Homo sapiens: one gene and its partner. The protein of the gene in region 2 purifies or fractionates together with the protein of the main gene of each other region. This does not show direct contact. Each region holds a gene or a part of one and is shown on either strand. Other genes may lie near its edges.

The links.
Region 1: the proteins of NEK8 (region 2) and ANKS6 purify together in Homo sapiens (affinity purification with mass spectrometry; 2 studies listed by BioGRID and IntAct, with this or other methods). This does not show direct contact.

Annotation. Positions count from the first base shown.
Region 1 is NC_000009.12:98,779,549-98,786,586, forward strand, and holds part of ANKS6 (ankyrin repeat and SAM domain-containing protein 6), read right to left. Parts: intron 5,329-7,038; coding exon 5,284-5,328; intron 4,610-5,283; coding exon 4,405-4,609; intron 3,026-4,404; coding exon 2,919-3,025; intron 790-2,918; coding exon 641-789; intron 1-640.
Region 2 is NC_000017.11:28,731,779-28,738,816, reverse strand, and holds part of NEK8 (serine/threonine-protein kinase Nek8), read right to left. Parts: intron 4,835-7,038; coding exon 4,629-4,834; intron 4,046-4,628; coding exon 3,813-4,045; intron 3,578-3,812; coding exon 3,446-3,577; intron 1,512-3,445; coding exon 1,303-1,511; intron 1,143-1,302; coding exon 1,081-1,142; intron 999-1,080; coding exon 817-998; intron 723-816; coding exon 572-722; intron 147-571; coding exon 70-146; intron 1-69. UniProt on the Homo sapiens protein: Required for renal tubular integrity. May regulate local cytoskeletal structure in kidney tubule epithelial cells. May regulate ciliary biogenesis through targeting of proteins to the cilia.

The sequences.
Region 1 (7,038 bases), on a different chromosome or scaffold from region 2:
AGATCTAGTAATATGGACCCACATTCCTTTTTGAGACAAGTTCTTGTTCTGTCGCCCAGGCTGGAGTGCAGTGACGTGATCTCAGCTCACTGCAACCACAGCCTACCAGGCTCAAGCTTTTTTCTTTTTTTTTGAGACGGAGTTTCGCTCTGTCGCCCAGGCTGGAGTGCAGTGGCGCGATCTCGACTCACTGCAAGCTCCGCCTCCCGGGTTCACGCCATTCTCCTGCCTCAGCCTCCCGTGTAGCTGGGACTACAGGCGTGCGCCACCATGCCCGGCTAATTTTTGTATTTTTAGTAGAGACGGGGTTTCACCGTGTTAGCCAGGATGGTCTCAATCTCCTGACCTCGTGATCCGCCCGTCTTGGCCTCTCAAAGTGCTGGGATTACAGGCGTGAGCCACCGTGCCCGGCCGCGTGGACCCACATTCTTACAAAGCAGCCACTGTTGCCACAACATGGTCACAGTCTCCCCAGTTTTTCCTGGTCCCCTTTGTTTCCTATTGCTCAATGCCAGCTCACCTGCCACCCCTGCAGGGACTCCCTAGCATAAACCAGCCTGGGTGCATAGGAGGCAGCAGGCTCCCCGCCAGCCCCCATCTCCCTAGCCCCCAAGCCCCTTTAAGACAGGAAAAGGCAAACCTTCAGTCCACCCTTGTCATCGGGCAGCACTGGGATGCTCCAGGGCTGTCGGACCTTCGAGTGGGGCAGGGGAGGCTGGTGGCTCGGCCGGCCTTTGTCTTTATTCACCTGCATGCAGACAGATGCCAGCAGTCGAACAAGTTCCGTGTCTATGGACACAAAAGGCATCATTTTACCTGCAAATATGTCTGTTGGGCCATAAGGAGAAGACTCAAGATGACCCCTGTTAGACTTAGAACTCAGCCCTGCAGCTCCAGGGTCTGTGTAATTCCAGAATCAAGGCACCTGCCTCTCCATCTGATCTTCAAAAGGTGGCAAACAAAGCCAGCAGGGCTTAACCTACTTAACCAGAAAGAAAAACCGGAAGTCCTCTCTCATGAGGAAGGCAGGGGGACAGTGTGTTTAAAAGTGCAGGCTTCACAGCCAGGCTGCAGAGGTTCAGATTCTGCTTCTGTCCCTCCCTGGCTGTGTAACTGCAGGTAAATTACAAAGCCTCTTTGTGCGTCTGTACAAGTCAGTGACATTAATACCCACCACATAAAGGTATCTTATCAATTCACGGGAATTCCTTTAGAGCAATACAAGTGCTTTAAAAATACTAAGTATTATGAAGTTATTAGGAACCCAACTCAGTTATATAAAAAAAGCATTGCAAAAAAGATTGAGAAGAAACTACTCCAAACTATTAACAATGCTTTTTCTTGATGACTATTTCTTTTTTTTTTTTTTTGGAGACAGAGTCTTGCTCTGTCACCCAGGCTGGAGTGCAGTGGCACAATCTTGGCTCACCGCAACCTCCACCTCCTAGGTTCAAGCGGTTCTTTGCCTCAGCCTCCCATGTAGCTGGGGCTACAGTGCCCGCCATCATGCCTGGCTAATTTTTGTATTTTTAGTAGAGATGGGGTTTCGTCATGTTGGCCAGGCTGGTCTCGAACCCCTGGCCTCAAGTGATCGACCCACCTCAGCCTCCCAAAGTGCTGGGATTATGGGCGTGAGCCATCCACGCCAGGTTATTTCTTTTTTCTCTCCAAGTATTCAATAATAGGCATGAGTTTCTTCAAAAGTTTTGTGTAAACACTTCATTTAAAAACCCAGTAGGCAAAATATTCCTAGGAATAGACTGTTTTATTGGGAAAGGGAATAAACGGCAGTGGAGGCTAGGGAGAAGAGGAACACTGAAAAGATGAGTTTCTCAGAAAAAGTGTGTATGAGATCCAGCGAGAGTGGCTGCGGACTGATTCCGAATAACAAACTCTTGGCAAGTGAAGAAGGTCTCCAATGAGGTGGAGTAGGATCACTGGACTTGGGGCACAGGACTCCAACCCTCTGGCTGGGACAGATCACTTCCCGAGTCTTGGCGACCTCATCTCTTCAAGAGGATGTGAACCTCTGCTTCCCCTCTCAGACCTCTTTGAGGGTCAAACAGAACCAAGTGTGCATCTGTGAAGTGCAGGGGCCTGCAGCAGGGAAGGGGTGGCAAGGGTGGCAGTGCTGTGACGAGGAAGGGCATGCCTGCTGGCTACCCCTCTAGCTAAGAGGGGCAGCAGGTGACTTGTGACTGCAGAGGTGAAAGTCTTCTCTCCCCACAGCCAACAGCTAGAATCCCAGCACAGGGTTCAAGCCCAGTGGGTCAGAAGGGCCTCGGGGCTTCTCTCTCTCTGGGTTGAAACTCCAGGTTGATAAGAAAGACGACAGATCAGAGACCTTTCCCCTTGAGCTGGCTAACTGGAAGCCCAGGTCCCAAAAGAGGGTCTGTCACAGCAGGGGAGGGTCAAAGGGGAGTAGCAGGTACCAGCCGAGGCCAAAATGGGGTGGAACTAACGGCTACATTCCCAGTACACGACCCTTGACCCTGCAGCCTCTACCTACACAATTAAGCTGAGAAGGCCATCGCTCTATCTCCCATTCTGCTTATCAAAGGGGACTTTATGTTTCCACCTGAGTGACTCAGGATTTCTGGCTGTGAAGCACAGATGCCATTCTAGGGTGTGTGTGGACTGCAAAGTCAGACACGTCTTATTTTCCTTCCCTCTCTAGAGACTCCTAGGAGGTTGGTGCTGGAGGAAGTCCCCGGGGCCACCTGGTCCAAGTCCAGCGCTTCACTGGGGAGGGAAGGAACTTGCCTAAGATCATGCAGTAAGCTCCTGACACTTGAGAGTGACTTTCCCCCACGAATAAGCAAGTGCTTAAAACACAAGTCACAGAGGAGGTGCCTGTCTTGACTCCCAGTCCAAGAAACGCTGGGTAGATTTACAACCCTTTTCTTGAAATTACCTACCGGGATCATTCAGCAGCATCACCAGGTCAAAGGCCGTGTATCCATTTTTTGCACGAAGAGTGACATCGGCCCCTTGGTTTAGCAGATATTTCACAATTTCCTTATTCCTGGGAAAAAATGCTAGAGTTACATTCACTGAAAGCAAAGGCATGGCTTTGCTCCTGGGCAACAAAACCAACATTAACTACAAAGCTCAGTCTCTGAGCATTTAAGAAGGACATGGAAGGGCAAACAGTCTCACATTCTCTCATTCCCTAGCACGTGGGCAGGTCAAGCGGGAACATGATTTAAATCAAAGTCTAAGTGTTCCTTCCAGGAACAAAATGAAGACTGAGGCTAGATGTGGTGGCTCACACCCGTAATCCCATCACTTTGGGAAGCCAAGGTGGGAGGATCACTTGAGCCCAGGAATTTGAGACCAGCCTGGGCAACATGGGGGGCCCTGTCTCTACTAAAAATTTTGTTTAAAAATTAGCTAGGTGTGGTGGTGCAAGTCTGTAGTTCCAGCTACTTGAGAGACTGAGGTTGGAGGATGCTTGAGTCTGGGAGGTCAAGGCAGCAGTGAGCCATGATCACGCTACTGCACTCCAGTCTGGCAACAAAGTGAGATACTGTTGGAAAGAAAAGAAAAGAAAAGAGAAGGGAAGGAAAAGGAAGGGGAGGGGAGGGGAGGGGGAGGGGAGAGGAGACAAAACCAACAGCTCTGCCCAAAAATCACTGACCCCATGGAGACTCCACTTCTTCCACCCTAAATCAGGACATCTCCATTGGGAAAGTCTCCTACAGACCAAGGTGTCTGAAATAAAATTTCGTCTTGGAATTCAAGACTCATCGAATAAGAAAACAAACTGTTTTCAGATGACACAGGAAAGTGATCTGATCACCTAAAAGAGGGCAAGGAAAGAACCTCTAACTGGGAGTCAGATCACTTAGCAGCTACAAGATGCCCACCCCAAAGACGAGGCCTCCAGGAGGATGACAGCCCATCCTGCTGGGATGATCACATAAGAAGGGGTTCATAAGCACCCTGTAAACACTGAAGCCTATTCAAAAGGAGAGGGGTAGGACACATCTCACCATCAATCATCACAAGACGACAATGGTATGAATAACCAATGTTTACTTCATACAGGAGCTACTTAAGGAGGTCACTATATCTCAATGTGAAAACTCCAATGAATCAGTCACTGTGTTCAACTGAAACCAACCTAGAGAACCTTATCTCTCTGCATAAAATGCTCCTGCTGCATGGTTTTTCAGGGCCATTGTGAAATTCTGTGATGGGGGAACAGGAAATCTGGACACAGAAGGGTGGGACTAAAATGAGCCTGTGCCGCTTTTTTTTTTTTTTTCCATGCCTCAATGTCGTCATAGTCCTGGGGTTTGTATGCAGCATCTCAGGACCAGAAGAGCCCATTGGGAACCTCCATCTCAGGCCAGAGCATCTGTCTGGCCTTGTCGCTGAGGGCGTGGGGCTGGCACTGACCCATGGTAGGTTGCCTGCATGAGGGCCGTCCAGCCATGCACGCTGTCCTGCTTGTCAACATCCGCGTGCCTCTCCACCAGCAGCTGCACCAGAGCCAGCTGCCCCGTAACAGCTGCTAGCATCAGTGGCGTCGCCCCGTCCCCATTGACCAAGTTCACGTGGCTGGGGTCTTCATCGGCAATCTCTTTGACCAGCTGGAAGTTTCCTGCAAACACAAGCAGGAGTCCGGGTGAACTGTGGGCCTGGTACCATAGGCTGATTTCTCCTGTGGTTCATGTAACAAACACTTGCTGGCCCTGCTCTGCCTCTGCAGTGGGCTGCTGGGCATCATAGGGGATACTAAGAGGGCGTCAGAGATAGCCCCGACTCTTAAATGCCTCAGTCTAGGCGAGACAGAGACAAACACACGAATGGGCAGAAGTGTTACCAAAAGACAGAAGTGTTGTTAGTGTCTTCAGAGAACGGATGAAGGAGACAGAAGAAGACAGAAGGAGAGTTCAGGTCTCGCTGCGGGGTGAGGATCGGGAAGGGCTTCCTGGAAGCAGGGTCTATATCAAGAGAGAAAATTTTAGGCTAAATGCCTCTTTGTCACAAAGAGACTGGAGTGGGTATGCAGAGAGGCATTTCAGATGCAGGAAGAGCTAGGGCATAGCTAGACAGTGTTTGGCTGGAGTGGGGCTGGAGGCCGTCTGGAGTCTATGTGTAGAGCTCTACAATAAATACTGGCCTCCAGGATCTGAACTTCCAAACACCAAACACCAAAATGCCTGTTTCTTTCTCAAATACCCTGGGTGGCCCTGCAAAGGACTACAAATATTAGGTTGGGAGAATGTAGCCCTATATTCTTAAATATCCAAAAAGATTTTCTAAAGCGCTTACCCATTTTCAATGCATGGAAAATATCAGGTCGCCTTTTCTCCTCATCTGGGTAAACAAAGATTTTTAAAGTTAACCACGGAAAGGTTTAATATAACAGAAAAGTCACAAGGGTGTAACAACACAGCCTGGCTTTAAAAAGCATCTAATTCTCAAAAGCAATCTAATTGGAGACCTACGTAATGGACAAATCCAGCAGCTCTTCTGGAAGGTTTATTACCCAAGAACATCTGAAAACACTTCAGAGACAGATCTTGCCAACAAAACACGAATGAGCAGCAGATCACGGCCCTGATCTCATGCAAATAAAGCAATCATTTTTAGGCAAAACAAACGTTGGCATATCCTTTCTTAGATATACTGAAAAGTCTTGGGGTCTTAGAAAATCCTGGATTCCCATGGACATTGTTTAAAAATTTTTTTTCTTCTAAAAACTAAATGTACAATCATAATTCCAAATCAGAGGACCCCTGAGATATCGAGCAGCTGAGCTCTAAGGAAGTTCACAGCCACAGCCAACAGAAGAGCCAATGCTCATATTTTCTTTCCCTCCCATGTAAGAAGCAATCAGAACATGCTCCCTCCTCCAAACCTGCAGACACAGCTGGCCAAAAGCCGCTGCCCAACTGGGCATCTTCATGCTGTACCCTGAAGCCCAGCTGCTAGGCTGGGGCCGGACCCCATGCCTACCTGCACAGCTGAGCCTTGCTGCAGCCGCCAGATGTTAGCCCCTCCCTCACATGCTCATCCCACACCTTCCTCCAAGCTTGGGCCAGCAGGTACCCCATTCCTGTCAGAGCAGGCATCCTCATGGCCAGTCTGCTTGCTGGGGGGCTGAAGGCAGGCCTTCTGCAGCCTTTAATTGATCCCAGGGGATGGAGCAGCTGCCAGAGGGCACTTGTGACTCTGGGCTGACTCTGGTCGAAATGAGCCCTCTTGAGTAACTGGGAGGAAGCTGCAGCCCAGGACAAGGAGCACAGAGTGTGGAGTCAGTGCACGTGAATTTCAGCGCACATTTTTAGAGTAAGCTGCCTCTTCATCACAAATGTGGGGATAGCATCCCTCTCACCTGGCTGTTGCAGGGATCAAATGATAATGTTAAGGCGCCATTCAAAGAGCAATTACTTTCTTTAGCAACCAGCAAGGTAAACCCCAGAATTCTTTTTTTGAGATGGAGTCTCGCTCTGTCACCCAGGCTGGAGTGCAGTGGCGTGATCTTGGCTCACTGCAACCTCTGCCTCCTGGGTTCAAGTGACTCTTGTGCCTCAGCCTCCCGAGTAGCTGGGATGACAGGCACACGCCACTACACCCAGCTAATTTTTGTATTTTTAGTAGAGACGGGGTTTTGCCATGTTGGCCAGGCTGGTCTCAAACTCCTGACCTCAAGTGATCTGCTCGCCTTGGCCTCCCAAACTGCTGAGATTGCAGGTGTGAGCCACCGCTCCAGGCCGGAACTCCAGAATTGTTTTTTTTTTTTTTTTGAGATGGAGTCTTGCTGTGTCTCCCAGGCTAGAGGGCAGTGGTGAGATCTAGGCTCACTGCAACCTCTGCCTCCCGGGTTCAAGCGATTCTCCTGCCTCTGCTTCCAGAACAGCTGGGATTACAGGCACCCACCACCGCATCTGGCTAATTTTTGTATTTTTAGTAGAGATGGGGTTTCACCATCTTGGCCAGGTTGGTCTCGAACTCCTGACCTCGTGATTCACCCACCTCCGCCTCCCAAAGTGCTGGGATTACAGGCGTGAGCCACCACACCTG
Region 2 (7,038 bases):
GTCAACTCACAGATGTGGGCTCCCCGCCATCCCCCGACTTCCCCTTCCCAAGGTATATGTGACACCCACCTGGCTGATGTCAGTGAGGCTGCCATGGCCTAGGCACCCATTGCTGCCGCTGCCGAATGTCATGATGATGCCTCTGTCTGGGGAGAAGGGCAGTGAGGAAGGAGAAGGGAAAGAAGTTAAACAGTCTTTCCAGATAGCCCGGTCCTCCAGTGGGTTGCAGCAGCAAAATAAAGTTGGGGACCAGGGCTGGAAGGATGGGATAGGAAGAGAGAAAAGGATATGAGTCCCTTCAAACATATGTGACTTTGGACAAGTGACACCCTCTCTGAGCCTTAGCGTCCCCACTTGTCAAATGAGGATAATATAATAACTGCCTTGCCAGGCCTGTCCGTAGGGTAAAGGAGGTTGTATAAGGAAATCTCCTCAATAGTTACTAGACAGAAGCAATAACTCGATAACTAGTAGACAGAAGCATTCATTAAGTGCGTGTTTTGCAAGAGAAGAGAGAAGGTGCTCTGTGGGGCCTCAGAGCAGGTCCCACAAGGTAGGCCCGACAACTCACCAGTCAGGCAGGCAGTGAAGAAGTCCCCACAGGCCACGTGCTTGATGGTCACACCCGACTGGCCCTCCAGGAAACGCGAGATGAACTGGGGCTGTGGCTGCTCCACTGCCCCAGGAAGGAGACTGCCTCCGCCTGCACCTAGGGGTGGGGCCTGCAGGGGCAGGGGGATGGGCAGCGCCTGAGCACCCCAACCCTGCTGTGGACCTCCACCTCCACCCATCCAGGCCACCCCCTGGCCTGCTCACCTCCCACAGGATGAGACGCCCAGAGCGCGTGACGCCGGCTTTCTGCGTGCGCCCAGCTGCCACCTGGACCACCTCTGTGTTGAGCATTGGCAGCCGCAGGGGGGTGCCCAGCCCACCACCCCAGGCATACACTGACGACAGTGGTGGTGGGATGGCTGGCCTCACAGGTCCCCGGGGGATACCTGCAGGTACAGTGCATGGGGACTATTAAACTGATGGGAATGGTGTGGCATCCATGGGGACTGGCGGCCTCTTCCCACTTACCTCTGCAGCGGACACTGGTGGTCCTGCTCCCTGTGTTGCTGGGGGCCACGGACTTCTCTGCCCTGCAGGACAGATGGGGGCCTAAGGACAAAGACCCTCCTGACATTCCTACATGCAGGAAGGGAGGACTTGCCCCAGGTTTCCCTCTGCCTCAGACCTCCTGTGCTCCCACTGGGTGCCCACACCCTGCCGCCCAGGACCGCTCGCTGTCCCTGCACAGGCCTCCGCATGCGGACACTGCCCACGTCGGTGTGGAGGTTGAGGAGGGCACGGATGCAGAGGGGCTGTGCCATGATGTGGCTGAGTGGTGGCCGCTGGGCAGGCTCCAGGCTGAGTAGACTCAGGACCAGCTGGCGAAGCTCAGGGCTGTACCGGTCAGAGATAGGTGCAAAGGTGCCACTCATGATCTTCAGCACCAGTGCTGGCAAGTTCTGTGAAGGCACCAGGTTGAGAATTTGGGGAAGTGAGGGCAGCACCCCCCAGCTCCAGCCCCTGGTCTCCTGGGATAATAACAGCTTTGCCTGGAGGCATCATGCTACCTGACTTCAAACTATACTACAAGGCTACAGTAACCAAAACAGCATGGTACTGGTACCAAAACAGAGATATAGACCAATGGAACAGAACAGAGCCCTCAGAAATAATGCCACACATCTACAACTATCTGATCTTTGACAAACCTGAGAAAAACAAGAAATGGGGAAAGGATTCCCTATTTAATAAATGGTGCTGGGAAAACTGGCTAGCCATATGTAGAAAGCTGAAACTGGATCCCTTCCTTACACCTTATACAAAAATTAATTCAAGATGGACTAAAGACTTACATGTTAGACCTAAAACCATCAAACCCCTAGAAGAATACCTAGGCAATACCATTCAGGACATAGGCATGGGCAAGGACTTCATGTCTAAAACACCAAAAGCAATGGCAACAAAAGCCAAAATTGACAAATGGGATCTAATTAAACTAAAGAGCTTCTGCACAGCAAAAGAAACTACCATCAGAGTGAACAGGCAACCTACAGAATGGGAGAAGATTTTTGCAATCTACTCATCTGACAAAGGGCTAATATCCAGAATCTACAAAGAACTCAAACAAATTTACAAGAAAAAAACAACCCCATCAACAAGTGGGCGAAGGATATGAACAGACACTTCTCAAAAGAAGACATTTATGCAGCCAAAAGACACATGAAAAAATGCTCATCATCACTGGCCATCAAGAAATGCAAATCAAAACCACAATGAGATACCATCTCACACCAGTTAGAATGGTGATCTTTAAAAAGTCAGGAAACAACAAGTGCTGGAGAGGATGTGGAGAAATAGGAACACTTTTACACTGTTGGTGGGACTGTAAACTAGTTCAACCATTGTGGAAGTCAGTGTGGCGATTCCTCAGGGATCTAGAACTAGAAATACCATTTGACCCAGCCATCCCATTACTGGGTGTATACCCAAAGGATTATAAATCATGCTGCTATAAAGACACATGCACACGTATGTTTATTGTGGCACTATTCACAATAGCAAAGACTTGGAACCAACCTAAATGTCCAACAATGATAGATGGATTAAGAAAACGTGGCACATACACACCATGGAAAACTATGCAGCCGTAAAAAATGATGAGTTCATGTCCTTTGTAGGACATGGATGGAGCTGGAAACCATCATTCTCAGCAAACTATCGCAAGGACAAAAAACCAAACACCGCATGTTCTCACTCATAGGTGGGAATTGAACAATGAGAACACATGGACACAGGAAGGGGAACATCACACACCGGGGCCTGTTGTGGGGTGGGGGGAGGGGGAAGGGATAGCATTAGGAGATATACCTAATGTTAAATGATGAGTTAATGGGTGCAGCACACCAACATCGCACATGTATACATACGTATCAAACCTGCACGTTGTGTACATGTGCCCTAAAACTTAAAGTATAATAAAAAAAATAAATAAATAAACAATAACAGCTTTGCCCTCAGGAGACTTCAGTCTGATGAGGAGACTCCCAGACTGACAGGGGAGTCCAACCTGGCTTTCAGTGATCCCTAGTCTGATAGGGGAGCTGCAGCTATATCCTCAGAAACCCCAGCATGCTGGGAAAACTCAAGTCTTGCTCTTGGGAGGGTCTTCTGGGAAAGCCACAGCCCTGCCCTCAGGAGCCCTCCGTCTAATGGGAGGCAAGACCTACTCTCAGAAATCCATAGTCTGAGGGACACCCATAGCCCTCCCCTGGGGTAATCTGATAAGGGAGAGACATGACTCAGCTAGAGGAGAAACCTGAGGTGGCTTGAGCCAAGGGCTGCTGGGCGAGGCAGTAGATTTCTCAGTTGTCCCCTGGAGGGTGCATACACTCACCGCAGCCTCGAAAGCCCTCTTGAGGCTGGCCAGCTCGTAGAGGACACAGCCCAGGGCCCAGATGTCACTCTTCTGGTTGTAGGGCTTGCCCTCACACAGCTCAGGGGAGATATAGCATGGGGTACCCACCACCTGCAGGATAGAAGCTGGGATCACAGCCCTGCAGGGAGGGAAGACCAGGGGCTCTGTGCATAAGCCCATTTGGGGACAGCTTCTTCTCAAAGCAAGCCAAGGGGCTTCCTCCTGCAGAACCACCCAAACAGGGGCCAAAGGGCCAAGGGTTTTTTAGGGGGAGGGGAGGAGGCAGGGTTAGGTCCTGGCCCTCAAGACTTCTAGTGCCCTGGAGGTCCCTTCCATGCCCAGGCACCGTGTAGGCCTTGCTCTTGCTGCTAAGGATCTTGGAGATGCCGAAATCACCGATCTTGACGACCATGCGGTGTTTGTCAAGCAGGATGTTCTGGGTCTTGAGGTCTCGGTGCAGGATGAGGTGGGTGTGCACATGATGCAGTGCAAGCAGGATCTGCACGAAGAAGTGCAGGATGGTCTCCTCCTCCAGCAGGGAATTACAGCGCTTTTGGATGAACTCAGCCAGAGTGCCGCCTGTGGCCCAAGGGACTAATCAAGATCCAGGCTTTCTCACACCTACGACAACCCCTCTCCATTGTTGTTGTTGTTTTTTTTTTTTGAGATGGAGTCTCGCTCTGTTGCCCAGGCTGGAGTGCAGTGGCATGATCTCAGCTCACTGCTGCAAGCCCCCCCTCCCGGGTTCAAGCCATTCTCCTGCCTCAGCCTCCTTAGTAGCTGGGACTACAGGTGCCTGCCACCACACCCGGCTAATTTTTTTTTTTTTTTGTATTTTTAGTAGAGACGGGGTTTCCCCGTGTTAAACAGGATGGTCTCGATCTCCTGACCTCATGATCCGCCCGCCTCGGCGTTGGCCTCCCAAAGTGCTGAGATTACAGGCATGAGCCACCGTGCCCAGCCAACAACCCCTCTCCTTTTATGTATGGAACAGGGCACTGGGACCAGAGAGGACAAGGGGCTAGCCGGGGTCAGATAATTGGGACCAGAACTCTAACCCTTGGCCATGCCCATTCCAAGGAGGGAAGCCAGGAGATCTGTGTCTGCCTGTCCCAGAGGTAAGAGGCCCTCCAGCCAGGCCACTGTAAGGAGGCTGGCCCACCTGGTGCATATTCCATGGCGATCATAAGGGCTTTGTCTTCCAGGAAGTTCTCGTAGTACTCAATGACATTGGGGTGGTTGAGCAGCTTGAGGACCTGGCACTCATTCTGGGCTGCCTGCCGCTCTTCCTTGGTCATCTGTTCCACTGGAATCTGCTTGATGATCACCAGCTTCTGGTCAGCCTTTCGCAGGCACAGGTGCACAATCCTAGGGATACGGAGGACAGGGACAGGTTACCAGCTAAGCCTCCAGCCACATATCAGGCAGGGCGGTGCAGCCTAGTGACTGATGTCTCTTGGAAGAGGGTTCTAGACTGAGAGGTCATCTAACCAAGCGCACAGAACACTGAACTTGGGAACAGGGAGAACTGATTACAAGCTGTGTGGGACTTCAGTTTCACCACAGGCACTGTGAGGTAAAGTTAGTCTTGATCTCTAAGTTCCCACAGACTGCCTGGGTTCAAATCTGGGTGCCTCCTCTTACTAGTTATCTGGTTTGATACATTATGTGACATCATTGTCTGGAAAATGAAATGGGCCTCCCAGGGTTGTTGAGAGGATGGAATGAGAAAATGCATGTAAGGCACTGAGTGCAGTGACCAGCACAAAGAAAACGCTCAATGAATAGAAGCCATTCATATTATTTTATTTTAATTCTGTGGTTAGTCTCCATAAAAGCAGGGACTACAACATTCTTGTTCACCACAATAACCCCAGTGCATAGCCCAATATTTAGCACACAATAGGCAGTCAATAAGTATTTGTTGAATGAGTGGACTATAAGCTGATCTAAGTCTCAAATTTTTACCTCCAGATCAGGCTTCTCTTCTGAACCCTAGACTCAGATATCCACTTGAATGGCTCACAGTCATCCTAAATTTTAACAAATTCAAAATAAAACTCTTGATTCCTGCCTCCAAACCTTTCCTTGCTCAGTCTCTTCCATCTCAGTAAATGCTACCATCATCCTCCAGTTATTAAAATCAGAAACTGCTAAAATCAGAAACCTGAGGCAGGGCCAAGTGGCTAAGGCCTGTGATCTCAGCACTTTGGGAGGCCAAGGCAGGTAGATCACTTGAGTCCAGGCGTTCAAGACCAGCCTGAGCAACATGGTGAAACCCACTCTCGCAAAAAAAAAAAAAAAAAAAAATTAGCTGAGCATGGTGGCAAGCCTCTGTGGTCCCAGCTGCTCTGGAGGATGAGGTGGGAGGATCACCTGAGCCTAGGACATTGAAGATACAGTTAGCCATGATTGCGCCACTGCACTCCAGCCTGGGTGACCAAGTGAGATGGTCTCAAAACAAAACAACAAAAAAACAGACACTTGAAAATCAGCCTAGGCCGGGCGAAATGGCTCACACTTGTAATACTAACACTTTGGGAGGCCGAGGTGGGTGGAGCATTTGAGGTCAGGAATTTGAGAACAACCTGGCCAAAATGGTGAAACCCCATCTCCACCCAAAATACAAAAATTAGCTGGGTGTGGTGGCAGGCGCCTGTAATCCCAGCTACTCGGGAGGCTGAGGCAGCAGAATGGCCTGAACCTGGGAGGTGGAGCTTGCTGTGAGCCGAGATGGCGCCACTGCACTCCAGCCTGGGCGACAGAGTGAGACTCCACCTCAAAAAAAAAAAAAAAAAAAAAAAAGAAAAGAAAAAAGAAAATCGCCCTAGAATCTTTCCTCCATTTCACACAAGCAAATCCTATTTCTACCTCTGCAATACTGTAAATCCATCCAATTCTCTGTGCCCTCTCTACAGCCCTTGCCCTATAGTCATCATAATTTCTCGCCTAAAATACTGTATAACTCTCCAAAATGGTCCCTTTCACTCCTGTCACCCTCAAATCTAAATTCTACATGAACCAGAATGACATTTATTTTTTATTTATTTTTCTTTTTTTTATAGATATGGGTCTCACTATGTTGGCCAGGTTGGTCTTGAACTCGTGGCCTCAAGATATGCTCCCACCTCGGCCTCCCAAAGTGCTGGGATTATGGGCATGAGCCACCATGCCCAGCCCCAGAATGCAATTTAAAAATCTTACTATCCTGGCTAACACGATGAAACCCCGTCTCTACTAAAAATACAAAAAATTAGCTAGGCATGCTGGTGGGTGCCTGTAGTCCCAGCTACTCGGGAGACTGAGGCAGTAGAATGGCGTGAACCCGTGAGGCGGAGCTTGCAGTGAGCCTAGATTGCGCCACTGCAGTCCAGCCTAGAAGATAGAGCAAGACTCCGTCTCAAAAAAAAAAAAAAAAAAAAAAAAAAAAAAAAAAAAAAAATTGGGGCCAGGCGCGGTGGCTCACGCCTGTAATCCCAGGCCTTTGGGAGACTGAGGCAGGCGGATCACGAGGTCAGCAGATCGAGACCATACTGGCTAACATGGTGAAACCCCGTCTCTACTAAAAAATA